Regions from separate parts of the Homo sapiens genome. Here region 2 is linked to region 1. Evidence: fine-mapped expression QTL. A gene starts in region 1. The other region holds a variant in brackets. All regions are shown on one strand. Distances are from middle to middle.

Region 1 (16,519 bases):
AGAAAGAAAATACTGCCACTCTTGTCAAATCACTATGCCCTTCTACCTTCTCCTTAAAGATGAATGAAAAAACAGTGACAAGACAGTCTTTCTTACCATAGAAATGACTACTTACATAGCCGCAGCTCAGAAGATTCTCTAAGTATAGGAGTAAAAGTAATAAATCTAGAGTTTGGAGGCATGAGTTCCCACTAAACAGCTTTATTTCTTTGGACCTTAGCTTACTGATATGTAACGGAGGGGTGTTGGGCAGGCAGTAGAGAGAGTTGTAAACAGATTTTTAAATTTTTTTAATTCAATAAATGTTGATAACTTATATTCTAGGCATTATACTTGGATCTAGTATATAAAAGATGAAAAGATATGGTCTGCTCCTTCAAGAAGATAACAGTCTATTAAACTGACAGACTAACAAACAACTACAATAATATAAGCATTATAATAGAAGCACATACAAAGAGAAGTGGAAGGCTAGAAATAACACCTAAATCTGTTTGAGGAAATCAGGGAAACCTTTACAAGGAAGTGGCATTTGAGCTAAAACTTGAAAGATAAATAAGAATTTTGCCAGGAGGCAAGAAGGGAAAATGTACTATGCCAGTTAGAAAGGCAAATGCACAGAGATTTGATAGTTTTTCAAAAAGAATGGCATGTTTACGAAGCTATAATACCTCAGAGGTGCTAGAAGATAAATGGAAAAGGTGAAAAGGTATGAAGCCGAATATCTATCTAGGCCAAATCATGAAGTTGGTATGCCATAAACACTGTTTTTATGGCAATAGATGATAATTTGACATAGACGATAACTTAAAATTTATGTGGTACACAGATCACCCTTGCAGTACAGTAGAAAATAAAATTAGTGGGGAATAAGCCAAGAGACCAATCAAGTGACTACTGCAATAGTATACCTAAAGCTAGTGAAAGGCTACAAAAGGACAATGATTCTGTGGACAAAAATGGGGAATATTCAGGAGAAAGAATAGGCAGGACTTGAAGTATGAATGTTGGCGGGGGGGATTACAGCTAAAGTGTATTCAGATTGTGCTAAGTATTTTTGGCAATACTTCATTTAATCCTTATAATATCCCTAATAGGGATGGAAAGCAGTCCAATTTGCTAAAAGGTAATTTGCCAACGAATCAGTTTGCTATATTTACCAAATACTTGTTTTAGAGAATATTCACCTCAATATATTTAATGAATGTATTCTTTTTTTTTTTTTTTTTTTGAGACATGATCTTGCTCTACCACCCAGGCTGGAGTGCAGTGGTGCGGCAACCTTGACCTCTCGGGCTCAAGTGATCCTCCCACCTCTCAACCAAGCAGCCTCTCAGTCCCACAGGGTTTCACCATGTTGCCTAGGCTGGTCTTAAACTCCTGGGCTCAAGCAATCCTCCCACCTCTGCCTCCCAAAGTGCTGGGATTACAGGTGTGAGCCATCGTGCCTGGCCAATGAATGTATTCTTGGTACACTTTTTTAATGAATTCACTTTTGATGAAATGATTTTTTTTTTTTTTTTGAGACAGGGTCTCACTCTGTTGCCCAGGCTGCAGTACAGTGGCAACACTATGACTCCACTAACTCAGTCATAGATGTACGTTTGTCTTATATTAACTTTATTACTCTTTTGAGTTCTCGCACCTCATAGGTCCACCAGAATCCTATGCTCATGAGGCTCAAGGCTCACTGCAGCCTTGACCTCCCCAAGCTCAAGCTATCCTTCCACCTCAGCCCCCAAGTAGCTGGGACTACAGGCATGCACCATCGCACCCAGCTAATTTTTGTATTTCTGGTAGAGATGGATTTTTGCCACGTTGCCCAGCCTGGTCTCGAACTCCTGGGCTCAGGCAATCCTCCCGCATTGGTCTCCCAAAGTGCTGTGATTACAGAGTTGAGCCACTGTGCCTGGCCCTGACAGTTAATATTCTTAAATGAAGAACTATACCTTAAAAAAAAATAGATATGATAAAACTAAATTCCAAATCCAATGTAATAAGAGTAGCATATCTTATTATGACAACTTTCTTAGTTTTTCCTGGGGGCTACCTGATGAAGATAATGAAGGTAAGATGGTTCTCTTTGCTTTTCTGTGGTGCTCTGCTCTTTTCTTTTTTTTTTTAAACTATCAGAAATTGCCATCTATCTGGAGTCAACTACCATTTACATGTGACACATAGAACCCACTAACCACCTTTAAATTGTTATCTCAAATATTTGTTTCATCATCAATGTAGGTGGTATTATTTATTTGACAATACGAAAAAAGTCATCATAATTCTGCTTTCCGGGATATGAGAATTTGAAATCCTTTTTAACTCAACTCTGTAGTGCTCATGGTTCATAGCTGTACACAGTGGAGGTCACTCTAGGAGTTTAGTGGAGAGCAGCAACTCCTCTTTGGGGACATTTAGAAATACATGGGGAATTTTTTATTGTTACAGTGGCATGTAGTGCATGGGGGCCAGGGATGTTAAATGTCCTGCACAATGAAAAACTGTTTCACCAAAAATGCCAGAAGCCCCATTTGAGAAACCCAAGCGCTCAGAGCCATCAACTTCATGAACATGCGACAAGTATAGTCACACAGGGCCCAGTGCTTGGTTTAATGCTCTGTAGTCACTGTCTTGAAAATTGTAATACTTTTATGTTTGACTATCTGTTTTGTAAGTCCAGTGGTATAGCAGAGCATAATATGCAAGCAGAGGTATGTATCCTTTCTTCCTTGCCGTTCTATTTGCATATGGTCTCCATGATGCCTCATGACAAAGGATTCTGGTGGACCTATGAGGTGCAGGAACTCAAGAGAGTAACAAAGTTAATACAAAACAAGCATGTAACATCTATGACTGAGTTAGTGGAGGCATAGACAGTTCCAAGAGGCTACACTTTTCATTCAAATCCGAACTTGCTTCAGGTGCAGAAAGAAGGCAACAGCATCTTTAAGAAACACAAGTGATTACATCACATCCTTCCTTACTCATGTGTTACTTACCACTATTAGCCAACCATTTACACAAAAAATGATGACAAAGAATGAAAGGGAAAGTAGGGCAACTCAGCACTCCCTTTCCTTTCATCCTTCCTTACTCATCAGTAAGCAGAAGATGGAGAATGTTGGTAGAATGTGTGCATATCAAGAAGGAAAACAAAAATAGTTTTGTTTTGTGCAGAGTTTACACTGCTCTGATAGCACAAAATACATATGCATTTACAAGCTATGAATTGTATAATTTTGGTGATTCCACATACAATTGAAATGCTCTTATATTTGCATTTTAAAACGGCATTACACAATATAAAGATGAATGGTAAAATTCATCCTAAGAATTAAAAAATTTAATTTTTCTTCTCATAGAATGACATTAAAAAGCAAATTTAAAAACACTATGACAAGTGGAGAGAGCGACGACAGAACAAAGAAAAAGCTTTATATTTTAATACAGATAATAGCACATTTTCCCCTGTGTTGGAACAAGAGGCCTTACGTTTTCATTTTGCTCTGGGCTCCACAAATTATGTAGCTGGCTGTGACTGGGCTGGTTGAAGCAAAAAGGGATTAAAAGATACTATTTAGTTCACAGATCTCTCAGAGGGCCAGAGAACCAGACTTGGATAAACCAAGCTAGAAACAACATCCAAGAAAAACCAAACCACAAAGAACACCCATCCCACATCACAAAGCTATTCTAGTGGAAACCCATCCCAGCAATGCCTGCCAGTCAGCACCTATGACTCTAGAACAGATGCCACAACTCCTCCCTACCTACCCAGAGGAACCAGATACCTCCTTCATGGTATTTGTCAGAAGATACTTATCTCCCTGAGTGCAGTTGAAGCATCATGTTGCTCGCTCTCACATCCATGTCCTGAATGGGTACATCTGATTGCTGGAAACTAGGTCATATACTGAAGCCAACTTCTGATTGTCAGCATCCTTTCCAACTAACTCCACATTTACTGAAGTCACTCTGGTAGAGGACACATTTGTACCATGTAGTCCCAACTAGTTGGCAGGTTGAGGTGGGAGGAGCCTAGCAGTTCAAGACCAGCCTGGGCAACATCGTGAGACCCTGTTCCTCAAAAAGAAAGCAAACCGAATTGGCCAATGCTACAAATTAGGGCCTTCCCTCTTCTCTAGCCATTGTTAAACATTTACTGATCACACCATTGATCTCACACCAGCAATCTAGCTGCAAAGGAGTCTGAGAACTGTAGTTTGTTTTCCAGCTTTTAAAGTACAGAAAAGTAAGCAAGAAGAGGGTTGGATGAATACTGAATAAGCCATCTTATAGTATCTGCCACAAAAGTATGGTAGCTACTACTGTCTGTTCTAGATTATAAACTGCTAACAGGCAGATGTTAACAGATGTTGAACAGTATTGGTAAAGGAGACTTGGTAGGCTTTTACTAAAGGCAGACATGCTAAGTACATGTCAGTGAACTAGAAGAGATGATTAAATGTTAATTGATATGATTAAAATACATTTTTAGGATGCTAGACTATAAACCTTATAAGGGAAGGGACCATGTCTGTTTTGTTTCTCACCATATCTCAAATCTCCTGGCAAGAAATAGCCACCTAAAAAAAAAAAGAAAGCACAGTCAGGTGTGGTGGCTCACACCTGCAATCCCAGCACTTTGGGAGGCCAAAGTAGGCAGATCGTGAGGTTAGGAGTTCGAGACCAGCCTGGCCAACATGGTGAAACCCCATCTCTACTAATAATACAAAAATTATCCAGGCATGGTGGCACATGCCTGTAGTCCCAGCTCCTCGGGAGGCTGAGGCAGGAGAATTACTTGAACCCGGGAGGTGGAGGTTGCAGTGAGCCAAGATTGTGCCACTGGACTCCAGCCTGGGTGACAGAGTGAGACTCTGTCTCAAAAAAAAAAAAAAAAAAAGCATTAAGGATATTAAGTATAGAGTTCAATTTTTGCATTTCTCATACTGTATGTAGATAAGTCAATTCCAAGTGATTTTACTGTTTCTCAATGAATCAGACTTCTGGATATGAACATTTTACTATATTTTCACATACATTATCTCATTTGAGCCTTATAACATCCCTGAGAAGTTAAAACAGGAATTACTATCCATTTCACAGATGAGGAAATAAATTCCAAAAAATAAGTGAGCACTTAGCTAAATGATGGTTTAATATTCACATTCTCTGACTCAAAATTCCAGAACTTTTTCTTACTTCAGGAAGAATATACATATAAAACACATTTGATAGTGGTTAATTAGGGGGCTATTGTCAGGTTTTCAATTTGAGCATCAACTTAAAACTAAATTACATGCAATGAACACAACATTCCTAATTTCATGCTGCAAATGTTTTTCTTCAAGAGTGAACATTCTTGGAGTTCTAGAAGGATTTGACTTGTGGTTGCAACTGCCTTTTCTTAAAGTAAATAATGTTGATTCAAGAGGTAAGGGGAAAGAAACCCTCTTCTAGAAATCGCAAATCTGTTAATTTGATGCTTTTACCATTTTCTAGTTAGGAATATTATAATTTAAAAGTTATGGATACACTGATTATAATATAGTACAAGGATTCTCAATTTTATTTTGCTTAAGAATCACGGGGTGGCAAGTAGTGTTGCTAACAATACAGATTCCCAGGCCCCATCCCCCAAAATATAATTCAGTAAGAGCCAAAATATCAACACTTAAAGAATTCTAGGTGTCATGGAACACTGAGAATCACTGATATTGTGTATCTGACATTCGGCGTGTACAAAATATTTATTTTATAAAAAATACATTTTAGCATGGTAGTCATATTTTAAAATCACTTCTATAGCCTTCTAAAATTTCAGATCAAGAGATTTTGCCTCTTAAAAATATTAGCTAATTTCCAGCATATTAGTAGAAATCTTGCCACGTATGTTTATAATCATGCTCTGAGGTTAAAAACTACAAGCTAATTTACTGTAGTAATCAGTCTCAAATCCCTCGGAGCGTAAGTTCTTATTATAGCATTTATATGTTAGGGAATTTATAGACAGCTTCTTACCAGTGAGCTGTCTCTTTGGGCCTTTTGATTTTCCTATTTGAAAATCCACAACGGTTCCAAACGAGTAGCTCTCACACCACTTCAAATACGTGGCAACCTGGTAACCACTAAAATGCACCTGTATAACACACAAATGTAAAAGAACGATCTCTACTTGGATGGGTTAGAAATGTGTCAAGGGTCCTAATTCAGGGGCAAATTTCGAACTTGAACCCACGCTTTCTGCCTCCTACAGCTTGCATCTTTTTGTTGAGAAGAAACCCTTCAGGATTAGTTTTTAAGAGAAACCTTCCCGTTTTACATATGTAGAAACTGAGCCCAAAGAAACAAAATTATTTGTCCAAGGTCACGCCCAATATCAGTGGCCAAGTCAGAGAGGAACCCCTTGTTTCCAATTTAATAGCCAAGCCAGCTGCATGTTACTACTCTTTAAAACAAAAATTCCCTAACTGCATCGCTTCACCCCCTCTCGATTTTTGAATAAAGTTGTTTATTCAAAACGGCCCTTCCCCACGGTGGTGCTTTTATGCCTTCGGGTAGTAAAACCTTCCATAACGTGTTAGTGAAAAACACGAGGAGGCCACGTCTAACGCGGTGACTTTCACAGGCCTTTTTCTTTGGCCAAAATTTTCTCGGAAAGACTGTTAATCCTACATTCCGCTGGGGGAGGAGCGACGAGGGAGGAGGGAGGTCACCGGCAGCTGACAAGTCCTTACATGTACTTGCGCGTGCCCGGGACGCAGCCTGCGGGGCCGAGGAAACCAACGAAGGATGTATTAGGACGAGAGGGAAGGAAGGGGGCGGGAGAAAAACACGGTAGTGGGAAATCCCTGTGCACTGGATCTGCCAACCCCTCGCAAAGCTGAGAAGAGCCGTGCGTGAATAAATCTCATTAAATGGCCCGGCGCAGACACTGCAGCAGCAAAGAGGAGGGGGCACCGCGGCTCGCGCGGCACGTTCGGGAAGGGGGAACGCCAGGGCGGCCCTTTTATAGGCCGAAGCCCGCGCCCGCGCGCCCCCACCCTTCGCACCGCCCCCGGGCCACGCGCGGAGCCGCGGCGTTACCTGAGAAGGGCCGGCTGCGTCCGCACCCGGCCCCGCCCGTTCCGCCGCCCGCCCGCCCTTCCCTCCCGCGAGGCCGCAGCGGCACGAGATCTGCGCCTCGCCTCCCTCCTCACGCGGGCGGATTTTCTTACCTTGTGAAAAACCGTCTCAGCGGCTGCCCCCGCCTCCTCTGCTGGATGTGAAATGGCGGTCGGCGAGGCAAGTGTGAGCATCGCAGCTCCTGCCAATCCTGCATAGCCGCCAAAACGGCCCCGAACACTGGCGCCCCCCTCCCGCAAGCCCCTCGGAGCCCATCCATGAGATCGGTGCTCCGCCGCCCCTTCCGCTGCCCCTCACCCAGGTGACCGTGCCCGCCAGCCGAGTCATCGATCCCGCGCGGGCGCTGCCGGCCGCCGGCCGCCTCCCTCGCCGCGTGCCCGGGGAGGGGGAGAAAGCCCCTTCTCGGCCCCCGCCCTCCGTGTCCCGCCCGGGCGCCCGCCCTCTCGCTCCTTTTCCCGCCGAGCCCCCTCCCCCGCACTACTCGCAGCCTCCCTTCGCCACACACACCCCCCTCTCCCCTCCCCCCAGTGGTTGCGTCCGTGACATCATCATCATGGCAACAAGAGCTGCAGCCTGGGACCGAGGAGCCCGTGTGATTCCCGGCGGTGGCGGCAGTGGCGGCAGCACCAGCACCGACGAAAGCTCGAGGGCTTCTCTCCTGCGGCCCCTTGCCGGGTGCTCCTGAGGAGGCGGCGGCAGCAGCGCCTACACCGCCCCGCCCGCCGCTCCTCGAGGTGCCTCTGTGTGAGGGGAGGGGGCCGTGCCGAGAAGGGGAGGGGGCGCCGCCGCCGCTGCGGAGGGAGCCGCCGCCGCTGCTGCTGCCGCTGCCGGGTCGCCAGTGAAGGGAGGCAGTGGCGGCGGCGGCGAACATGTTTTCAGTAAGGATAGTGACTGCAGACTACTACATGGCCAGCCCGCTGCAGGGGCTGGATACCTGCCAATCCCCCCTCACCCAGGCCCCTGTCAAGAAGGTGCCGGTGGTGCGAGTCTTCGGAGCGACCCCGGCAGGTAAGCGGGCGCCGGGCGCGGGGCGGGAGCGGGAGTCGGCGGGGCGCCGGGGCCGCCCTCCCCGCCGCGCACACGCGCACACGCCACCGGCGCCGGCCGTCTCCGTGGATCGCTGCCGCGTCTTCCCTCCCCTCCGCCCTCCTCGCCTTTTCTCTCGTGCGTGACAAGAGCCGCAAAAATGTGGGTCCGCGCGAGCGCTGCGCGGCGCCCCCACCCCCGGGCAGGGAGGTGGCGAGCGCCGCGTGTTTAGACTGCGTGTGGCGGCCGGGAGCGGGAGCCGCACTCCAGGGCGCGGGCCGGGAGAGCGAAAGCCGCGGGCGCCCCGGACGGCGGGCCAGGTGGCCGCGCCATGTCCATCGGTGGACGGGTTCGTAGGGCCTGCTCTGAGGTCGGTCGCTAGTGGGACATCCCTTGTGTCCCCCAAGTGCCGCTTTCTGGAAACGGGGAAGTGTCAGCCTTGTTGTCAGTCGCTCCCCATGGTCTCTTCTCACCCTCGCTCTCCTCTGCCAGTTCCGGAGATGCAGTGGGCCGGAGAGAGTGGCGCTTGGGGCCAGATAATCTTTCTCACTGGGGTGACCGTGTGGCTCTGCTGTGAGTGCAGGTCGTGACTCCTTAGAGTTTAGTGCCTGAGCGTCGGGGGACAGGGCAGCATCCTTAGGTGCAGTGCTTTCAGGAAATGTGCATCCATGGAAGTAGGAAATGCGTGTTTATGTTGCCCAACCTAAAACATCACACTTAATGGGGTGAATTTATTAGGAACCACAGCCAGACTCAGCAGCACAGACATTTTGAAATGCTCCTAGGCTGGGCTGTAGGATTGCGTTTTAAGTACAGGTATATATTTTTTAAACACAACTATGTTGAAGAAGGGATGGGAAGGGGAGACAGCCGTGACAGAAGGTACGTTCTCAAAAACTCCTGGGGCTTATGATAATATAAAAAAGATAGAGGCCCAGTTTACTAGGTGTTTTAAAATGGTTTTGCTTTTTTGCATGCTTTGAACTGCTTCCATGAAATAATGGAGTTCTAGGAAATAATGCATCTTAGGAAAGGTTGTTCTTCCCTCTAGCTATGAATTGCCCTATGGGATTTTAGATAGCATTTCCCACTTGATGCTCCTTGCCCTCATCACCATTCATCTTATTACTACAGTCAGTTTCTGTGGACTACCAAGATAATAGCGCTTTCCCAAACACAAGCACTCATTTTAAAGCAGTTATCTTTTAATGTGAATTCTCTTTGTTAAAATGTCAATGTTGTGAGATTTGGTAGCATATTCCTATTTAAACTAGTGAATATGATTTTGATATGAACCTTGAAAGATGGGGAATTTGAGTGCTTTTAACGTGTTGAAAGTGTAACACTTGAAACTTTGGAGGCTGGGAAATCGAGGCGATGAAGTGTTCTATAAGATAGGTTTTCTGCCCTTTTAAATATAGTGGTGCTGTCTTTGTTTCCAATTGGAATTTCAGTGTAATGCACTGTTCTCACTTCAGATGCAGAGGAAGGATAAAATAGTGAAGTTGATATGGCCCTGTTCAGCCAAATTTCCGAATCATAAAGTGACATGCTAATAGGATATACTGTGGCATTTCTGTGTATTACAGCTTGTATGGTTTGAGTTACTTTTCCACACATAATTTTTTCTCCTCCACACAAGTCATTAAATATGTTTTCCTGAGAGATAGTCAAGCTTTGTTGTATAGGAAAGTTTCGTTTGTGGAAATAAATGAGTTTCACTGTAAGCTAATGTAATTCTATTACGTGAGGAAATGTTCCTTAAAAAATAAAGAATATTATATACTGTTGTTTTCCTGAATATTTTTTAAAAGACACATTAACTATTTCCTATTTAATCCTTCATGGACATCCCACAATAGATTACCAGCACCTTAAAAAAAAAAAAAAAAACAAAAACGAAAAAACCAAAGACTAAAAACCCCCATTGGGGTTTTTTTTTTGGTACATACTTTGAAATTTATATTTTAAATGAATTAAAAAGTAACACTTTTTATATGTACATTGAAAGACATAAAACTTGATACAGAGAAAGTCAAATTTTAAATTGTTAAGGATTATCAAATTGAATTTGCCATGTAGTTCACAGTTTCCAACAAAATGTTTGTTTCAACAAGAAAAAATTTGAAGTCATTGGCATACATTTAGAGTTTACACTTTTCATAAACCAAGCCAGCATTTTTATTAGCACGTCAGAAACTCCCAGTGAGATTAATATTAATTAAACATAATCAAAAACTGCAGAATTACCTGCTTTTGAATTATCTCCCCAAGGAAAACTAGTCCAATAAAATAAAACTTGAAAATTATTAATATAAAAGAGAGGCCAGTCTGACTTAGTAAAACTCTGAATGCTAGAATTTTTAATGAAGACAGATTTATTTGAAAGTAAAGATGTAAACATAATGCAAAGATATAAACATGGTTTGTATTATATCTTTATAGTTTATATCTTTACTAACAAGTAAAATAAGGTAATAAAAATGTGTAACACATGATAAACCTATGCTACATAAAATAGCATAAACATACTTTTTTCATATATAAGAATTACTTTGGGAGGTCCTTAATGCTTTACTTTGGTTTGGAGAGAAAATGTTTTAAAATTGACTTTGCTTTACAAATGAGATCCTGAAAAATAGCAACCAAAGATATTTTTTCTCAAATGAAGTGGCCGTTTCAAAATTATATTACAAATTCTGAACTGATTGGATTAATACCCTTTTACTAGTTTAGTTTTTCTATTATTGCCTGAAAAGCATTTTTCTGCTTTAGAAAACAGTCCAGTTGACTTTTGATTGTTCTGTGTTTTGAGGACGTATCTTGAGTAATTTAAGAAATAAAGTGTTTTGGGTTTAAAAGCTCCCATGTCTTAAGTTGGTGAAATTTGAAAAGGTATTTTTAAAAAGAGGGATATTCAGGGCTGGGTGCTGTGGCTCATGCCTGTAATCCCAACACTTTGGAAGACAGAGGCAGGAGGATCGCTTGAACCCAGGAGTTGGAGACCAGCCTGGGCGACATAGTCTGTACAAAACAAACAAACAAACAAACAAAATTGGCTGGGCGTGGTGGTGTGCACCTGTAGTACTAGCTATTTGGAAAGCTGAGACAGGAGAATCGCTTCAGCCCAGAAGGTTGAGGCTGCAGTGAGCCAAGATCACGCCACTGCACTCCAGCCTGGGCAACAGAGCAAGAGCCTGTCTTAAAAAAAAAAAAAAAAAAGGCGGGGGGGGATATTCAGATTTGAATGGTAAATCCTGACTGATTTAATCCCTTGCCAACTGAGGATATTGATTCCTAAGGGAATCACTTAAAGTTTCTTCATCTGAGTTATGGAATTTTTTAAAAAACAAAAACAAATTTCCTCTCCATTTTTTTAACTAGTTTTTAAAATGTCTTGAACATTATTTTGACATAATCAAATTGAGCAGTATCATTTGTAGAATAAATTGTTAATTTTTTCTTTTAGAACAACATTTTGGTAACTTGTTTTAATGGAGGGAAGAAAGGTTGTGAATAAAGTATAGGACAATGTTTTTTCATTTAGATTTGAATATAGGTGTGACCACTCAGAGGATTCACTACAAATGAAATCATCAGGCTTCATTTAAGGATTTGACTGAGGTGGACTTGGGAAGCTGTCCATTTTCCACATCTCGACTTTTGCTTAGTTGCTTGATGTAACTCACTTCATGCTGAGTTTAGACAGCTCTCACAGTTTCCTCAGCACCAGGTTAAACAGAACTATCCTTTCAAAGAGCTTCCCTGCTGAGATGCAGAGTAGGAGTAAATAGAAGAGTGTGGGATGTCCACAAAGCAAGGAATTAAACAAAGTAGGCCAGACAGACTATAGAGGGAGCTGCTTGTCTTTAAGATTACTCTAAGGAACTCTGCCACTTCCTCTAGCTTAGTGAATATTTTGGTAGATTGTTCTAGATACTGTTAGCCATGAAATCAAGCTTTTCAACATAAGGAATTGATAATTCTGAAATGCTATATAAGTTTATGTAGATGCTTATCCAATTATAAATATATTCTCATTGTTTATATTTTATAAAATTAAATATAAGAAACTACCAGAATAACCTTTTTTTTTTTTTTTGGTAAATTGGAGTTAAATTTGCAATAAGAATAATTTTGAAAATTAGCGTGTATCAACAACTCAGGTTCAAAAGTTTCTCTAATAGAATCTGCTTTGTTCATAGTCTGTTTTTTACTAAGCTATTTAAAAATATTTTAAGATCATATAACACCTATTTGATTACAATTATTGGAGAGATTTTCAGGAACGCTATGGAGATGTAATGACTCATCACAAACAAATTGGTCACTTTTTTTAAAGTAGGTATTTGAAGCCCTGAGTAGCAAGTTGTTTTAGCTTTAAGTGCCTTAAGAACAGCTTTACTCTCCAGAAGCTCACAATGTAGTAGAGATGATGGGCATGTAAACGTAAGTCAAATGCAGTATGACTGGACTATAGAAATGTGTATAAGACAAAGCAAGGATTCATTGGGAGACATGTTCTATATCCAGGCAAAAAGGGGAGTCAGGGAAGACTTCGTGAAGGAAATATGGATTAGTCATGTTAAAGGAATTTTTAAGGAACTTAAAATTTCAGATAGAGGAACAGCTACAAGGTAATTGACAGATGAAGACAACTGCTCTTTGCAGGGCAGTTTGGCAATGTATATTAGAATCCTTGAAGTGTTCTTTTTTGACCCAGTAATTCTAGTTTTAGGGATTTTAATCTATGAGCATAAATCTTTTGGCAAATCTGGTTGTCTTTTGAATCCGTCTACTTCTTTTCATAATCCATCACCACCCTAAACTACTAGCATTTTTGGTCAGGTTTACTACAGTAGCCTCCTAATCTTGGTTTATCCCAATCTACTTTGTCCCCTTCTGATCTGTTTCCTACACTGTAATCAGAGGGATCTTTTAAAAATGCAAACCTGATTACATCACCCTACTGTTTGATATGCTTCAGTAGCTTTCCATTGCATTCAGGATATGGACAGAACTCTGTGTCTTATATGGTGGCATCTGCCTGTCTTACAAGGTCTTGCATAGTCTGGCCCTTACCTTTCTGTCTAGTCATGACTTGAGCCATGTTCTTGACTTACTCTTTTTGTTCCAGCCTTGTTGGCCTTATCTCAGTCCCTTGTTCTTGCCATGCTCCTTCCCACAGTGAGGGCTTTGTACCTGCCGTTGCCCCTGCTGAGAATGTTTTTACTTTTCTTTCACCTAAACTTCGATTTATCTTTCCTCAGGGAAGGCTTCCCTATCACAGACTCTCAGAGCACCATGAACTCTCCTCATAGCACTTGCTGTCATTGTAATTTCATATGTGTTGGAGATTAACATCTGTTTTTCCAAATAGATTGTAACCTCCAGAAATCCTGATAATGTGTTTCTTTTTCCTCACCATTATAGAGTTAATGCTTACCACAGTGCTTGAAACTCGTCTATTAATTCTTGGAACTCATTTGTGGCAAGGATTAATAAATAGATGATAATCATCACAGAGAACAACTCTAAGTGTTCAACAATTGGCAAATGGTTGCATAAACTGGGTATATTCATTTGGGAGGATGTGTTTAAAACATGTTGTAGAAGTATGTGTAATAACATGGGAAAGTGCTGTCATATTATGTGAAAAAATTAGTTTACAAAATAGTCACTTATTAAAAGTGTGGAAAAAAATACACCGAAGTATAAAAGTTGGTTATCTCTGGAAGGTATGTTTTATATTTTCAGATTTTTTACAGATAACATGTGCTGATTTTATAATTTAAAAAAACCATGTACAAAATTAAGGAAAAATTGATTTTCTAGATATGGTTCCAGAAATGTAGTGGGAGACATGAGATTCGTAATGGTCTCCAAAATATGTGTCAACCAAAATGCATGATTGCATGATGATCATATTGAACTTAATTATATAAATTCCATTTAGAAATTGCAAAATGATTCATAAATTAAAGCAAGCCAGTAATTTCTGGTTGTATTATTCTTACTTGTATGTAAAGTGGTTTTAATTTTAAAATGTTTTGAAAAGTAACATGGTTTTGGCACATGACAGCACTAAAACAGAGTAAAGACTAGAATTAACTTAAATATATATGAGAGCTTAATATAGGTTGAGCATCCCTTATCTAAAACTCCATAATCTGAAATCCTTCAAAATCTGAAATGTTTTGAACACCAACATGATGCCACAAGTAGAAAATTCCACACCTGACCTCATGATGGGTCGCAGTCAAAACTTCGTTTCAGGCTGGATGCAGTGGCTCATGTCTGTAATCCCAACACTTTGGGAGGCTAAGGTGGGAGGATTGCTTCAGCCCAGGAGTTCAAGACCAGCCTGGGCAACATGGAAAGACGCTATCTCTACAAAAAAATACAAAAGTTAGCCAGGCAGGGTGGTACACGTTTGTGGTTCCAGCTACTTGGGAGGCTGAGGCAGGAGGATCGCTTGAGCCCAGGAGGTGAAGGCTGCAGTGAGCCATGATTGTATGACTGCATTCCAGCCTGGGTGACAGAGCAAGTCCCTGTCTCAAAAACAATCAAAACAACTTTGTTTCATGTGTAACATTATTTAAAATTATATAAAATTACATTCAGGTTTGGTCCCATCCTCAGGATATCTCATGTATGTGCAAATATTCTAAAATCTGAAACACTTCTGGTCCCAAGCATTTCAGATAAGGGGTATTCAACTTGTATATGAAAATGGATCCCACCTTCATTTATGAGTAGGGAAAAGAAGAATTGTTTAATAAACAGTGTTGGGATAGCCAGTTAGTCATCTGGAAAAATAATGTTGGCTTCCAGAGGAGTTAAAGATTTAAATATGAAACAAAGAAACAAAAAAGGTAGGGTAATTATTTTTTACGTAATCCAGGATTGGTGAAGTCCTTTAATAGCATACTGGGTTGCTGGATTTTAGGACATAAAAATAAAATTCTGTACAGGGGAAAAAATCAAACAAAGTTAAAAGAGAAACAGACTAGTAAAACTTATTTGTATACTTCACAAAGGGCTAAGTTCCTCTTAATACAAAGAACTAGAAAATAATCCAGTAGAAAAATTAGCAAAGAGAATTCATATGAAAAAATGTACAACTTTATTTATAATATAATAAAGATGTAAATTCAAGCTACAACATACTCTTTGTCACCTATCAAATGAGCAAAGGTTATGTATAGTATAACTCGGGAAAGGTGAGAAGAGAAAATGGTCAGCCTTATACATTGCTGGTGGGATTATAAAGTATTCATACTCTATAGAAAGCAGTTTGAAAATGGTTTTCAAAAATTAAAACACAGATTTATTTCGTTCTAGTAATTCCATTATAGGATTTTATTCTCTAGAAGATTTTGCATATATGTCAAATAAATATCTAAGAATATTTGTGGCAGCATTATTTGTTACTGCAAAAGATTGGAAACATGCTAAACATATCAGTAGGGAAGTAGTTAGGTGAATTATGGTGTATATATTCAACAGAATACTAGTCAGCCTTTAAAAATAATGAGAGAATACTATGTGTACTGCTGTGGTGCTATGTCAAAGATATGAGGAAAAAAAGCAAGAGGCATGACTGCATGTGCAGTTTGCTGCCATTCGTGTGGTTAAAATATATATTTTTATATGCTATATATGCCTATGTATTAGAATAAAATTCTTTATTATAATAAAATCCATATGTGTGTGTGTGTGTGTGTGTGTGTGTGTGTGTGTATATATAGGCAGCTATAGAATGTAATGTGCATGGGAGGATACGGGAGAGTCTGATGACAGTAATTGCTCCAGTGTGTAGAAGTGGTTGCCTAGAGGACAAAGATGGACTAACTTTTAAAGTATACTGTTTGGTAATTTTTCAGTATTTTAAAATCATGTGCATGTAATACTATTCAAAGTTAATATTTTTAAGTTATGTTTTGCTTACAGGAATTGGTAAGAAGGAAAAAATAAGAGACCATAATAGTTGTTACAAACAAATGATTACTGCAATACTGTTTTTAACTTTAGTTATTGTTAGAGATCTTCTAATTCAAAGTTTTCAGTTGATGTTACATGGCTCACAGAAGGGTAGTCCTAGTAGAATGGGGGCTGAAGGAAGGCGTTGGGGTTCCTGTGAACAAATAGCATGGTGAGTGACAACCAACAGTTAAAAGCAGCATACTGCTCCTTTTGATATTTTAAGTGCATTAAATGAGGTGTGCCTTACTACTTGGAATCTACTTCAGCAGCCAGCCACAGTGTACAGCTGCCTTTTGTGGGAAAGGGATCATGGAATTGTTACTGGAGTTTGTATTCACGGTGCCGAAGGAACATGCCACCTACCACAAGGTGCAACCCACTT
Region 2 (16,519 bases), 63 kb after region 1:
TTTTTCTTAAATCTGCTAGGTTGCTGCCTCCTTTTCAGCACCTAACCTCTGGGTAGAGGTTCATGTCCAATGAACCTGTGAAATGAACCTCTTAACAGTGTGGTGCTGCTGAACAGCCACTCCAACTTGGCATCTCTTTTGGCTGAGTTACATAGCAGAGTTTCCAGGACTAGGGATGGTAGTCCCACCTCCGACCTCTTCTCTTTATTTCTGGTGGTTTTCAGGGATTATTTCTCCCTTAGGTATTTCCACTGCTCCCAGTTATTAGGACAGGGATAGGTCTCTTGCCAACAAACCCAAGATGGTGGAGAAGCCAGTTGTCCACCTCAGTTATACTTTTTCCAGTGTAGCAACTCTGAGTTGGGAAAGTTTTCTGCATGCTTGGTGCTGGACAGATTGAGGGGAGGGGCACTGTGATTATGAAAGTCTAATTTGCTTTCTTTTGCTCAGAGTTTTTTCACTTCTTTGTGGCCTTGGGAACTGTCTCCTCATATTTGAGTTCGGGATATTGCTCATGATCGTGTCAGCACTGTATTTGTGGTTTTGGTTTCCTGTGGCAGTGAGTGAAGCCAGGTTACTTCTGTACCACCGTTTTACAACCAGAAGTCTCTGTCCATTTTAAAATTTTATTGTCTTTTTATTATTGAGTTGAAAGAGTTGTTTGTTCTAGATACAAGTCCCTTATGAAATATATGATTCACAACTTTTTTTTCATTCTGTGCATTGTCTTTTCAACTTTCTTTTAGACAGGTAAAAGCTTAAGGTCCTTTAGTATTCAGCTACCATAAAATATGGTTGAATAATTTACTAGACTTGCATATAATGTTAATTACCAATAATATTTTATTTATTTGCATTTGAAGGAGCATTTAGGTATTTATGTACAAATTTGACCAGACAGTAAGTTTGTTTTGATTAACTTTTGATATTGCTTTAAATTGAGATGAATTTTCATGTCATAATCAGAATTTTTTTTTGAGACTTTGGTTTATTTACCTTTCAATTAAAATACCACAAAAATTAATGTGTGTGACCATTCTGGCTAAATTATCTGAAACTAAAAAGTGTTTGTTTTACAAGCCAGAATTTTATTTTTCACTAAGGTTAATAACACTAATTATTTTTATGACGTTTAGTCTGAAAGGTGCACATTTTCTTGGAGATTTGTGCTTGAAACTACTGTTAGAAGCTTTGTTTTTTAAGACTGAGCTTTTTAGAAATAGTTGTACCATGGCGTGTGCCTTTGAGCAGTACCCATATAGTTTCATAGTTATTGAAAATCAAGGGAATTGTTGATTTACTTTCTATAACAATAATTGCAGATTAAATTGCTTATGAACTTTGGATACAACATTTCATCAGATTTCTGACATATTAATCATAAAAGAATCATATTAATCATCAAACTACTGTTGTTCAGTTTGGAAGTTGGCCCTTAACCCATTTATGCCTAGTGTTCCATTATTGGGCTGCTAAGCTTGTGGGAGTTATTTATATCCTACTGCTCAGGGTCATCACCAAAGTCTGATTTTTCACACACAAAAAATTGCAACCTCTGGCATAAATGGGTTAATTGATTCCCTTCTAGTTCCGTTCCATAAAGGGGAGATGTGAGGACATTATACATATCTTCATTGTTTATAAGGAGAAAGAAAATAGTTTATAAGGAGAAAGTAAGATTTAAATCCATCAAATTTTCAGCTAGACTCAGTTGAAAGCCTTCTTAGAGGCCACCCAATTTGAAAAAGACATCCTGTGCATCAGTTTTACAGTAACAAATTCTCGGTTTTCTGACATCAACTGTGGGTGTTCTACAATTGAATTCAATTCTGACACTAACTACTACTAATGTATACCCTACAGGGTAAGGGTTCTGTCCGATAGTACTGCTCACTTCAGACACCAGCCACAAATGGAGTCCCTAGGCTCCCTGCACTTCTGCCCTACCTGAGGCTATCCAGGAGCCCCCAGCTACCAGTCATCTCATTGGTACACATGTAAACACTTAACACTTAAAAGAATCCAAACGTTTTAGGAGCTGTGTACCAGGAAGAGGGACAAAGACCAAATATATATTTCTTCTTATATCATAGTATCATACCCCCTCTTGTAAATTTTTCATTTTAGTTATTGAACTTTTCAATTCTGGAATTTCTATTTGGTTCTTTTTTTATAATTTCTCTCTCTTCATTGATATTCTCTATTTGGTAAGATGTTGGTCTCATACTCTCCTTTAACTCTCTTGACATGTTTCTTTTAGTTTTTTGAAATAGCTGGCTTAAAATCTTTGTCCAGTAAGTCCAACACCTTGGCTTCTTCATGAACAGTTTCTGTTGTCTGCTTTTATATATATGTGTGCATATATATATATATATGGTGCCATATTTGCCTGTTTGTGTGTTTTATAATTTTATTTTTGTTGAAAACCAGACATTTTAAATTATGTAGCAGTTCTCAAGTTAGATTCCTCTCTACCCACCCAGTTTATTTTTGTTGTTGCTGCAGTTTATTTCTTCAGTGATTTTCATGGGCTTATTTTGTATAGTCTCTATTCTTTTTTCTTTTTTGAGATGGAGTCCCACTCTGTCGCCCAGGCTGGAGTGCAGTGGCGCAATCTCCGCTCACTGCAAGCTCCGCCTGCCGGGTTCGTGCCATTCTTCTGCCTCAGCCTCCCGAGGAGCTGGGACTACAGGTGCCCGCCACCACACCCGGCTAATTTTTTTTTGTATTTTTAGTAGAGACGGGGTTTCCATGTTCGCCAGGATGGTCTTGATCTCCTGACCTCGTAATCTGCCCGCCTCGGCCTCCCAAAACGCTGGGATTACAGGCATGAGCCACCGCGCCCGGCAGTCTCTATTTGAAATCTCTGCTCAGCTAGCATAGTGGTCAGTTAATGGTTGACCAGAGATTTCTTTAAATGCCTCTTTTCTCAGCTTTTGCTGAGGGGCTCTGTGAGTATGTTGGGGCAGAGCCTCAAGATCAACCAGAGGCAAAATATTAGTCTTCTTAGATCTTTCCTGGGCATGTACATAGCCCTACACATGCTTATGGCCTTCTAAATTCCCTTAACTGTATCAAAGCTTTTCCAAGCCCCCGGTGGACATTTCATTCCTGTTTGTACTTTTGAATTTTTTGGTCAGCCTCTTGTTAGACCCAACTGGTAAAATTTCTCCAGGCAGCTACAGCAATTAAATAATTGCTGTTGATTGTTTTCCACAAAGACCCTGCCGCATATAGGGCTCTTCACATAGTGTGAGCCCTTCTTCAAATCAAATAAAGGCAAGTGCTGGGAATGGAGTGTTGTTCAGCAAGCTGCCAGACAAGTCCAATAGTGGCAGTTTTCTGAGGGTAGGGCTTTGGAGGAGCTCCAAATGGGTTCCGGCTCCTCCAGTGGCTGCCTGGCTGCTGGTTTTTACAGCTGCTATGGATGCAAGGCTTTGATTTTCAAGACTGTTTTGAAGCTGCAGAGGGAGAGATCAGATTAGAACAAGTTAAAATGCCACAAAGCTTGCTGTTTTAGCATTCATCTGGTGTTCTTGAATAAATACGCCTTGAATTGTTGCAAACCTTTAATTTCCAGAGTTCTGAAAAAGTTGCTTTTGACAGTTTTTGCCAGTGTTCTTGTTGCTTTTATGGAGGAACAGATATTGAAAGGTCCTTACTCAGCAATTTTGTAAATGCCTCTTTTCAGTCCTATATACTTTTATCTACATCCTGCCACCAATCTCTGATCCAGCCTCTCGTTACTTGCCTATCTCTTATATTTCCACTGGATCCTTGGAACACTGGTTCCATGGCTAATATGTTTATATTATCAAATTTTCACTATTAGCTTCCCTTTCTTGCCTGGTAGCCCTCTCAGGGCTCTGTCTGTCACATTTCACATAAATCAAAATATTTAGTGCCTCTCTTAAATATCGGCTCAGGATTCTTGCCTAGGTCCCTTCTCTTGTATTGGGTATTGGATATTTTCCCTGAGAAATCTTACCCAATTGTTGCTCATACTGGCAAATCTGTCTTCTTCTCTAGCTCAGATCTCTTTCTTAAGCTCCATATCTGTATGTGTTTCATTTAAATATCCATTTAGAAATTCTATAGACATGTAAAATTGTATAAATGCAAAACAGAAGTCAACCCGCCCCTCTTTTACAGTTTTCTTTGAGTGACATTATCATCCGTCCAGTTGCCTAAGCCAAAAATAAGAGTCATCTTTGATTCCTTCTGCCTTATCCTACTCTCAAATTCCAGTTACCATAGCCTCTTGATTCTACTCCCTAAATCCTTGACCTTTTCTCCACCTCTACTGACATCTCGACTGAATTCCTCCAGCAGCCTCCTAAACAGATTTTCCTTTCTGTAGTTCTGTTGCTAGTGTCCCCACAATGTGTCCACAGGGAACTTTATAAAATGCGAATCTGTACAGGTCATTAGTACATGCATGTGCGCACACACACAAAAACACAGACTTTCTCTCACACACACACACACTGTTTTTCTCTCTCTCATACTCTTTTTCTTTCTCTCCTTCTCATACTCTTTTTCTTTTCTCTCCACTGCACTCCTTGTTTCATCCCACCTACACTTTTCCTGTTCCCAGATGCCATGTTTCTGTTGCTGTCAGGTTTCTGTACATACTGAAAACATTCTTCCTCATTTGCTTGGCTAAATCTGATTCATAGTTCAGATATCAGCTCAAATGTCACTTCCTCTGGTAAGCCTTCCTAGATTCTCACAAGTCTGAGTTAGATACTTGTGGATATAGCCATAGGATTTTGTGCTTCTGAGCACCTGTCATACCATACTGTAATTGCCTATTTATTCATCATTTTCTCCAAGTAGACTATAAAGTTAGTGGCTTTATAGTCATGAAGTTAGTGGCTGTGTTATAAGCAGCCTATGGTTTAGCACCAAACATTGGGTCTCCACAAATTACTTGAGTAGAGAAATTATGACTACATTTATGAATAAAGGAACCAACTATACCCTGCACTGTATATACAAAGACACATTAGACAAATGTATGAATAAAATAGACTTTTGAAACATCTGGTATTTCAGCGATATAGTTTCTCTTAGTAATTTGGGATTAATCATTTAAAGCCAATGATTCTAGATAAAGTTCTGTATATTTTATTTGAAGAAATAAAATGGCATAAATAAATTTGAAACTCCAAAGTATTATTTACAAATAAAAGGAGAAAATGAAAGGAAACTGTTATATATTATGCTTTGTTTTGCCTTTTAAGTTTCTGGGTTATTTAAAAGTAGGTAAATTCTTTCTTCCTCCCTTTTGTTTACACAAGTTGTATATTTAGTGGGGGGAAATATATATATATATATATATACGTATATATATATATATGTATATATATATATGTATATATATATATATGTGTATATATATATATATGTGTATATATATATATATGTGTATATATATATATATGTGTATATATATATAAAAGAATCACCCATATATATATAAAAGAATCACTCATCACCTGGTCTCATGTACTATGTTATTTTATAACTGATTTTCATCTGACTATAAAGACATCATAAACATTTTCTTATACTAGGAAATACACTTAAACATCTTCTGTTGCTGAGGTTAGCAAACTTTTTCTATAAAGAACAAGAAAGCACATATTTTAGGTTTTGAGGGTTGTAGGGTGTCTATTGCAACTGCTCAACTCTGTCTATAGCATAAGCAGCCATAGACCATTCTAAATGGCTGTGGTGTATTCTTATAAAACTTTATTTAGAAAATCAGGCAGGAAGCAGGATTTGCTACAGAGCCACAGAGCTATTATACAGATATAACATAATTTTACTTATTTCCCTATTTTTGGAAATTTAGATTATCTTCATTTTTTTCACTATTGTTAGTCATACCTCACATCTTAGTATCTGAATCTTCGTGTACATTTTTAAGTTTTTCTGTAAGATAAATTCTGAAAATCTAATTTCCAAGGCTAAGAGTACATCCTTACAACTTTTCTTTTTCCATGAGAATAGATAATTTAACACTTTCTGTGACTGAGTTTTGTTTAGTTCGTTTTGTGGTTTTGTGGAGATGGGAAAAGAAAGATGGAGTAAAATTTAGAAAGACAGAAGCAAAGAAAGACTGGAAGGAAACAGATGGAGTTAATGATAGTGATATAAAACTTGAGATGTTCCAGGAAGAAGAAAATATGAAAATTTTTGTAAACGTAAATGTTCTTGCTCACATACCAAGTTTTTCTGTTTTATAGCTCTGTCGAGGTTTGTTTAAAACCTTGTTTAGATTGAATTTGAGATTTGGGAGATGGGATATGCAAATTACACAATGAGTATTTCTTATTCTCCTAAGATACTCTTAGGCTATCACTATTTTGATTTTGATTACCCATCAGCTTTAAAAAAAAAAAAACTTTTCTATTCCAGATGATGATGGAGAAAGAAGTCTAATTAATTAGAGCAGAGATTGGCAAACTACTATCCATGGGCCAAATCCCTCATGTTGCGTGTTTTTGTAAATGAAGTTTTATTGTAACACGGTCATGCCCGTTCACTTAAGTATTGCATACAGCTGCTTCCAGGCTACAACAGCAGAGTTATGTAATTGTGTCAGATACAGCATGTCCCATAAAGCCTAAAATATTTACTGTCACCTTCCAGAAAAAGTTTTCAGACCCCCAAATTAGAGGAATGGTACATTTAGTCTTTGTGTTTATCGAAACTGAATCTACAAAAATACCCCAAGTAATTTTACTACAAATAGGCTAACAAGATTTTAGATGGGCAATTTAGAGACCAAATCAAGACACCTAAATTGCAGAATAAAATGTTGAAAAATGACAATAAGAAATGTTGGGATATAAAGGACTTAATGTTTTGTTTTGTTTTTGTTTTTTTTGAGATGGAGTCTCGCTCTGTCTCCCAGGCTGGAGTGCATTGGCGCGATCTTGGCTCACTGCAACCTCCGCCTCCCGGGTTC[A/G]CGCCATTCTCCTGCCTCAGCCTCCCGAGTGTCTGGGACTACAGGCACCTGGCTAATTTTTTTGTGTTTTTAGTGGAGAGGGGTTTCACCATGTTGGCCAGGATGGTCTTGATCTCCTGACCTCGTGATCTACCTGCCTCAGCCCCCAAAGTGCTGGGATTACAGGCGTGAGCCACCATGCCCAGCCAAGGACTTAATGTTTAGTATAATTCTGGGTTCCGTGAAAGATGAAATTCAGAGCACCCACATACTCCTTGTTGAAGAGGCATCTGCCTTTTGTTATGTACTTACACACAATGGGAAGTAGCCAGCTCCACAGAGTTTTGCCATGGTGTCAAGTTTTGGTGGCGCTTTTTAAAATAACTTTTGCAGCTTCTGAATTAGGGAACATCAATCAAATTGGAAAATTCAAACTCTGAAATTTTTGAAACCTGTGTACATGGGCTTGTTCAGCCACAGACGATCTTATTTCTCTTGGACTTGTTGTCTAACTTCAGTTTGCCATGATAGTAAGAGGGAACCTTCAGAGGAGGGGAAGGGGAGTTGTTGTTTAAAGAGTATGAAGTTTCAACTAGACATGATGAATAAGTTCTGGACATCAGTTGTACTGCATGGTGACTGTAGTTGATAATGTATTATATACTTGAAAATCGCTAAGAGATTAGATTTTAAATGCTCTTACCACAAAATAATAAGTATGTGAAGTGATGGATATGTTAGCTCGACTTAATCATTTCATGGTGTATACATATCAAAGTTTCATGTTGTATACCATATATATGTACAATTTTTATGTATCAGTTTACGTTAATAGAGTTGAAGGGGTAGGGATATTTTCTTTCCTTAAATCTATATGTTACCTAGAAATACCTAATACCCTGACTCCTTTAAGAATCCAAAATGGCCGGGCGCGGTGGCTCACGCCTGTAATCCCAGCACTTTGGAAGGCCGAGGCAGGTGGATCATGAGGTCAGGAGATCGAGACCATCCTGATTAACACGGTGAAACCCCGTCTCTACTAAAAAATACAAAAAATTAGCCGGGCATGGTGGCAGGCACCTGTAGTCCCAGCTACTCCGGAGGCTGAGGCAGGAGAACGGCGTGAGCCCGGGAGGTGGAGCTTGCAGCAAGCCGAGATCGCAACACTGCACTCCAGCCTGGGTGACAGAGCGAGACTCCATCTCAAAAAAAAAAAAGAGAATCCAAAATCATTTAGTAGAAGGTTTCAAAATACCATAACTTTCACTAATTTTATAAAAACATTCTTGAAAGCATCCTGTATGTGGAACTTCTAGAAGTATAGTGGAAAAGCGCCTGGACTGAAGTCACAAGTTCTTAATTAGACCACTAACTAGATGTTGAAAAAAGCTGGGTTTCTAGTACCAGCTACCTACCTCTGGACTTCTTTTAGGAGAGAAGCCACTAATTTTAATGCTAAATCCACTGATTTGGGGGCATTTTCTCACAATTTAACCTAATCCTAACTAACGGGAGTTGTAGTAGACTGGTTTATCTCTAAAGACTTTACAGCTCTGTATCTCCACACATTTGTGTGAGGTAGAGCTAGCGGAGGGAAATAAATAGAAGTGGTCTGTATCTTGTCAAGATAAAGCAAATTACAGAACTACAAATTTTATGGTAATAAAAGACATACTATTTCCAAAAAGCAGTTGACTCTCGTGTTCATTTTTACACATTTCTCTTTCCTTATTTAACTTTTGAGTTTTTTATTTTATCCTGTTTCTTTCATTTTCTCTTATATCATTCTTATTCTATATTAGAGCTGTTAGTGCTATGCCAAGAATTCCTTGTGTTGTGGTTGTTCTTCAGGAGGTTGTTCTTGAGGAAGGGTGATGAGTAAGGCACTGAGCCATCTCTAGCTGCAGGAGCACTGGAGAGAGAGGTACGTCTGTGTTGATAGAGTGACTACAGATTTGGATGGCACTTCAGGTCATTCAGGGTAGGAAAGTGCAATATGTTGGGGATCCTTCTCAACCCCACACACCCATGTCCTCCTCTAACCCTGATGGTAGTTACATTAATTGTATCAGAGTCCCTCTTTTTTCGTGGATGTGTTTCTTCAGATATTCAAAGGCTTTCACATCATTCCTTTGTCCTTAAGCAGTTATTCTGTTTTGTTGTGGGTTCTTTAATTCATTTAATAAATGTTTGTTAAGCACATACCATGTGTTTTTTGTTGAGTTCTGGGGACATAGTGTTCATTTGAACACAATAACACCTCCCTAAGAGTTTTTGCCATGAAATGGGAAAGTTAGATAAGGAAACAGGCAATTATAATAAAAAATAAAAACTGAGGAATTAAGGAAGCCAACATTGACTTTTTAAAAACATTGAACCAGCATGGTTAAATGGAAAGAGTATTGGTTTTAGGTTTTGTTGAGCTGGATTCTATTGCTTAATAGTTATGTGACTTTGGGAACGTTAACCTCCATCAATACTGCAAGATTATCCTAATTAGAAATACATAGGTAAAGCACTTACCCTATTACCTGCTGAGTAAATCATTTCTTCCTTTTTCCTAAATTGTACATCCCAAAATTGTTGTAGTTCTGAAGCCTATAAATAGAAAGGTAATTCTTCTGGTCCCTACTTCACAGGAGATGTGAAAAGTGGATATAAAATTATTTTTAAGACACTTTGTGAACACTCTGACCATAAAGAAACTATTAATACAGTCCAATTTTGTAATTGTTTCTTGTAAAATTTACCCAAAATTCCATTATTGAGATATATTGACTATAAAACAAATACCTTAGGAATTTACAGTATTGCTTGTAAAATATGGCATTGCACTAGTAATTCTGTAATCACTGGTCTTGCATTTGTCAACTTAAGAGGAAATAATTCACTGTCTTCCCACCTCCCTCAACCTGTAGTTTAGCATACCAGTTACTCTTAGTCAAATTGTGGTTTTTGTCCAGAAGGGTAATGGTTATAACATTTATTCATGAGATATTTAAAAAGCATTCAAGTAAGTCATCAGTAAATTGATTAAATCTATTAAGACTCATTAATATAGTTTGAATGTTCTCTATTTGAAGAATTGAAAAACTATGAAATTTAGGAATTAATACCATGTTGTATTTAGAAATGAAATAGCCAAACTGGAAACTGAAATTTGTATAACAGCAACACAATTTGTAATTTTTCAAAAGCACGACAGTTGGTAGTTCAAATCAGAATATTACAGTTCGGAGAATCAGATCTTGTTTCATTATGTGACTGATCTTTCTAAATTTGCTCTGCTTTATGTAATAACTGTTCCAGATTTATTTTTCTGTCGTAAGTGTACCTTAAAAATAAGAGAAGCTAATGTTATTCTTTATAAGAAATGTAAACATTAAGATATCAACACAGTGTAGAACTACTTTCTATATATTTTATATAAATCATTCTAAATCATAAATGGGAAATAGTGATCAAACAAATATTTACATTCCTACCAAAAGAAAAGGCCCAGTGAAGCAGAGTGAGGAGGGATAAGGGGTGGGGAAGAAGCCTGAGGCTTGTGTTGGCAGGAACAGCACAGTGAGAGCGGGTGACAGCATGAGAAAAATGGATGTGTTCTTCCATCACTGCTGTTCTCCTCTCTGTTTGGATTAGACAAATGGCACATACCCAAGGGGAACTAGGGACAATGCTCTGAGGACAGTAACCACTTCCATACAGCCCTGCCAGATTCATGAGAGCAATGGTGCATCTGCTTTTTGTTGCCATTGTTGTTACTTAATCTTGTCATGGACAGATTATCGTTTCTGTGGCATTTCTTTTGTGGGTTCTCACTCAAATTACTTTCTTTATCATGGCTGTGCTGGATTGTCTGTTGGCAAGTCAGCACCATTTACCCCTTCTGCACCTTGACTGATATATTGGTTTTCTGAGAAGTGTGCATGTTGGCCTTTTGTCTCCCCTTGTTCCATACCACCAAATATAAAATTTAGATACCCTGAAATCCATTATAGATAATTGATCTGTAGAGATTTTGTTTTGATTTGGTTTTGTCTTTTTTTTTTTCCTTTTAATGGCAAAATTTCATTTTTACCCTCCTTCCCACTGCAATAGCAAAATTCTGCACACTGGAACTGCTTTTACATTCCCCTTTCTCCCAGAGCTGCCTCTCTTTTAGGGAAGGCTCTTGTTTGAAAACATTAATGCCAAGACAGGCATTCATTGATTTATTTAGTAAACTTTTTGTGAATTTTTGTAACCTTCATAACACTGTGCTTATAACCTTCATAACACTGGTATTTATAGATGATTCAGTGAAGTACACAAGACTAGTTGGATTATGAGGGTTAAATAGTGAAAATACTTTCATCAAAACTACTGTTTAAGTCATACTGTTATACAATGCTTGTGTTTACACAATGTTTCCAAATGTTCTGTTGTAAAATGTAGTTAATACTGGTTACTTTGAACTATGGGTTAATTTTTTTCAACTCTTCCCTTAGATAAGCTGTGTTGCCATTAGAACATTTAAATGAGTTTCATTCTGAGTTTTGTATTGTTAAACTGTGTCTGGAAACTAAACTTTATAATGTGTTACATTTTAGGTCAGAAGACATGTCTTCATCTACATGGCATCTTTCCTTACCTCTATGTGCCATACGATGGTTATGGACAGCAGCCAGAAAGCTATCTTTCTCAGATGGCATTCAGTATCGACAGAGCACTTAATGTGGCTTTAGGCAATCCATCTTCCACTGCTCAGCATGTGTTCAAAGTGTCATTAGTATCAGGAATGTAAGTATATGATAATATATTTTATAATTTCTGTTTATGTTGCTATTCTATTTAGAGGAAAACATACTCAGTTGATAAACTCTATTTCTTTTACTTCTAGTCTAATGGAACTGTAGTGAATTCCTTGCTGTAACTTTTTAACATGAATTTTTATGGCAATGAAAGGTAGAGAGTCAACAGTGATTTTTGTTGTTTCCTTTCCCATTTCTCTGCTTCCTGTAACTATAGAAATTCATTAGTAATTCATATAGTAATTTATTCAGCAAATATTTCTTAAATACTTTTTATGTGCTAAGCACTGTTCTAGGCGTTTGGGATATACTGCTGGACAAAACAAAGAGCCCTGCCCATGTGGAAGTTACATTCTACTACGGGAAACAGATAATAACCAATAAATACAACATTAAATTAATTTATTTGCTATATGATAATTAGTCGTGTGGAAGGAAAGAATCTATACAAGCAGGATAAGAAGGAATAGTAGTGTGGGGTAAGGAAGTAGACTAGTGACAATTTTAGAGTAATCAGGGAATGTGTCATTGACAAAGTAACAACATCTGAGCAAAGACCTGAAGGAGGTAAGGGAGTAGGAACAGCATGGAAGCCAGGTGACTAGAGTGGAAGAGTAAAGGAGAGTTGGACTAAATGAGATAAGAGAGAGATGAGAGGGTAGAGACTGTGAGGACCAATGATTCTCAAAGTGTGGTTTCCATACTTTGGTTTCCTAGTATCACCTACTATCATTAGCTTTACCTAGTTTTACAGCCATGAGAATATACCTCTCAGATCTCCAAATACACAGAGAATGAGTGAATGGCCCCAGCTACTATACACTCAATTCCAGTCTGTCACTCCACATGAGCTGCTTTCCATAGGCTACTCTTACCCTATGACTGAGCATGGCAAAGATACTAAAGCAGATCTGTAAAACATCCCTCTGTCCACTTGAGATGAGACTGGTATCTAGGTCTGGTGGCTATGCCGGCTTCTTCTGGCTGCCTTCTCATTTTCTCTCACATTTGGCATTTACTTCTTGGAGGACTGGGACTGACACACCTGGGAACTTGGTAGAACTACATTCTTGGGGCCCAGCAATTTGTGTTTTAATAAAGCCTTTCTGATGATTCTTATGCATGCTTAAGTTTGTTAATCACTCAGTAGGCTAATGTAAGGACTTTGACTTTTACTGTAAGTTATTACATGATTTTGAGCAGCCAAGATCTGGCTTAAACTGGAAAGGATTACTTAAGCAACTGTATTAATAATAGATTGTAGGGGGACGAGAATAAGAGCAGGGAGAGAATTAGGACATTAATCTGGGTAAGAAAATATGGTGGCTTGATATTAAGGTAGAAAAGACCAAGGAATTAAAATTAAAACAAAAAAGAAAATAGTGTGGCTTGAACTAGGGTGGTAGCAGGGAAGTAATCATCAGCTTCTGGATCTATTCTGAAGGTTGAGTTAATGTATTAGCTTTGCTTTGTGTTTGGGTAAGGATTGTGAGAGAGGAATCAAGGTTGACTGCAAAAGTTTAAGGGTGTTCTGCTAGGAAGACGGAAGGTAGAGGTAGAGTCAACTGACAGGAAAGATCTGGAGCTCATACAGGAACATTTGAGTTGTTTTATGTCCATATGAAATCCAAGTGGAGACCTTAAATCTCTGCTTCCACCTTAATCTAGGCTTTCCTCTGGACCATGATAGTATCATTTTAATTGAATTTCCTTCTATTTTTATCTCATTCCAGAGCAGCAGAAGTACTCTTATACTGTAAATTTAAAATCATTTAAAAATTCTTGAGTGGCTTCATATTGTTAATAGAATACAATTTAAACTTCTAGCCATAACCTATGTGACCTCACCCCATCTACCTCTGAAACTCTGCTTTCTGTATTCCATTCAGAAACAGTGACTTTCTCTCAGTTCCTCTGCTATCCAAGTTGTTTCTCACCTAAGTTCTTTGTATGTACAATTTTCTTTCCTTGAGTGTTCTACCCTTCCCCAATCCTCCAGATCATTGACCTCTTCAGAGAAGTTTTCTTTGACTATCCCACGTAAAATAAGGTATTTTAAGTAGGGCATTATTATTATTACTGTTTTTATTATTCTGTATCTCAGCCCATTATTTGTTTTCTTTAGCACTTAATACAGTTTGCAGGTATTTTAATTTTTATTTATTTACTTAATTTTTATGTGTTTCTTCCACTAGCATGTAAACTGCATGCTAGTGCACTAGCATGTATGAGATGACTCAATAACTGTTTGGTTGGATAAATGAATGAGGTGAAAGTTTACACTCATCCTATAACAGGAGCAATTATGTTAGGGATAATTATCTACTTTATCTTTTAGTTTTGTTTATTCTTGATAGTTTCTAATAACTTTCCTATATATATCCTCATTTCAAAGTTAAGTCTCCAAACAGCCCAGTGAAATACATAGTCACTTATCTTCCTGTATTTTTGTATTTGTTAAAGACATTGCCACATTTTTGAGAGTAGTTGAGTTACAGATCTGGATACATGGGGCAACAGATGAGCTGCTCACTCTAATTTTTCATTGCAGTTTTCTTTTTTCTTCTAATTTTTTGGTCATTTTCTTCCCTAGATCCCCTTTTTCCTTCCCATTCATTCTACCTTCTCTAATTCCTTTACTCCTTCAATTTTTCCTACTTAAGTTACATAAAGTTGCATCTAGCTACCAAATTAACATTTACATGAGGTTTAACTCTATTCTTTTTAGACTATCACTATCCTGAGGCTGAGTTAAGAGATAGGATCATGACCTTGGGCTAATTTCTGGGATTCCTTCTCACTCATGATTTTAGAGAATCTTCTATAAAGAGATTCTCAATCCATCAAAATTAATTAGGTGAGATTTTTCGCTATCCACACTCATTTTCCTTCCTATTGATATACTTAAAAAACTAATTACGAGATATAATTTTTTAAACATGAAAACATCTGCTTTCATACTCCTCCATTCTACTTTTTTCCCCCAAAGAGTCTCCCTGATGAGGAATTCTTTTGGCAAAACCATTCATCTGGCTGAAGATAACCCATGTTTCCAGACAACTACCTTTGTATATATGAAAAATACCATAGCAGGAAAGGGCTACAGTTAAGGTTGAATTTGCCAATGAGAGAGAATGATATCATTTATGTAATATGTCTTTCTTTAACCAATTCTTCATGGCAACAAAATAGGGTATACAGCAGCAAACTAGACGGGAAGTGGTATTATAAAAAGTTAAGAAAAGGGTGAAGAGTAAGAGGGAGGGATGGTCAGGTGAGACTTTTCTGAGAAGGTAAATTAAGCAGAGTTCTGAATGAAGATTAAACAAGCCATGCAAAAGTCCAGAGCGGAGCTTTCCACTTGAGGGATCGAGTTAGAGGGTCTGAAATGTTTAGAGTGGTTGGAGGAGAAGGAAGAATGGTATGACTTGAGATTGGAGTGAGAGGCAAGGATGAGATGAGGAACCCTTTAGACCTTGGTAAATAGTTGTTTTTTTTTTTTTTTAACAGAAATTACTTTATAACAATAATACAGATGGCTTAAAACAACTAAAAAATTATACCCAAAATAATGTCTCTGCTACCAAATTAGTCCTTTATTTGATGTCCACTACACTATTAGACATCACAGAGAGGTGATGTCCTATGAGAGTAAATTCTATTATCTGCTGCCTGTCATAAGGGAACAATGTTTTTAAATAAAGAGTGATTGGGTTTATCCACCTAAAGATTTAACCGTGTATTAACAGACCACTTTTCAGCCAATACAAAGCCTTTTATTTCATTCACAAATTTACGCCTGTTTATGTATTGTTTCTAATTACATCATCCTTGAAAATAGTGTTCTGTATATCAGAGGTTGTAGTGTAGTTTCAGATCCTCCTGAAATGATGTGAGAGTTCAGCTTATTTCATCTTGCACCGAGGATTTCTCTTCCTGTTATATAGCCTTTTGCTTCCCCCTTTCCTCATTCCAGCTGATACCCCGAGAAAAAACTCAGCCATAACATGATTATGTTGCTTAAGTAAGTCCATGGTCTTTTTCAGTCTCTTAAGTTCCTGTCTACACAGTTTTTTCACAGGATGCACTTGATATGGTTGTGTGTTACAGGTTTATTCATATCAGCTACTGAAATACATGCTGTGTGTACATATAATAGGTACATTGTCTCTGCTTATTGAACTTATAAAATAATAATAAACAGCTGAATAAGGAAAGTAATGTAAGTGTTGTTAAGTAAAGGACTTTGTTGAAGAAGAACTTCAGTTTTTAACAAAAAAATGGGAGCCAGAAGAAGGCGGCTGAAAGGTCTGTTTCTCTCATATGTGGAGTAAAGCAAACAAAAATATGTTTTCTTATATGTGGAGTAAAGAAAACAAAAAGCCACTTAAAGAGTCTTGATGTTTGAGATTAAGGGGTGGATGGTTTGTTCTTCCTTTTTGTCCATAGTTTTTTCAGAGTGATAATTTTTAATTCCCATCGTCAGTAATTAAAGAAAGTGATATTTTTTACACTTTTTAAAAAAGCTTCAGTATTTCATGTTAACCTGTGCTAGGTTTAACTGAAAGGTTTGGGATTTTTTAGTTGTTTTTTGGGGGGTGGATAATATTAAACGTAAGACTGAATTTGGCCAGCTGAATCTAATTAGGGCAATAAGTTGCATTATTTCATCTCTGAATTATGAAAATAATTTGAAATTTTTTTTCTTATATTTCAGGCCTTTTTATGGTTATCATGAGAAGGAAAGACACTTTATGAAGATCTA

Direction of the effects. Alleles are on the strand shown, and positions count from the first base shown. SD is a standard deviation of normalised expression in the study named.
For the expression in prefrontal cortex of the gene that starts at base 7,665 in region 1, G is the low allele of the variant in region 2 and A is the other (small effect, 0.29 SD a copy in CommonMind).

Evidence for each region. PIP is the estimated chance that this variant, and not a neighbour inherited with it, causes the effect.
Region 2: its variant is fine-mapped to the expression of REV3L in prefrontal cortex (CommonMind, PIP 0.95).

The regions. Positions count from the first base shown.
Region 1 is chr6:111,474,364-111,490,882 of GRCh38, reverse strand. REV3L (REV3 like, DNA directed polymerase zeta catalytic subunit) reads left to right here and starts at 7,665. Exons shown (of 32, transcript NM_001372078.1): 1 at 7,665-8,133. The coding sequence starts at 7,995. It also overlaps TRAF3IP2-AS1. RefSeq lists enhancers at 2,704-2,753, 2,764-2,863, 6,519-6,878, 8,719-8,778, 11,517-12,241 and 1 more and silencers at 6,949-7,338, 7,379-7,608, 7,779-8,078, 8,139-8,208, 8,269-8,348.
Region 2 is chr6:111,411,507-111,428,025 of GRCh38, reverse strand. REV3L (REV3 like, DNA directed polymerase zeta catalytic subunit) reads left to right here. Exons shown (of 32, transcript NM_001372078.1): 2 at 11,554-11,743; 3 at 16,472-16,519. Among named protein-coding and RNA genes, the nearest start is that of REV3L, 63 kb to the left of the region's middle. RefSeq lists a silencer at 433-633. The variant A/G (reference allele first, on the strand shown) is at 6,980.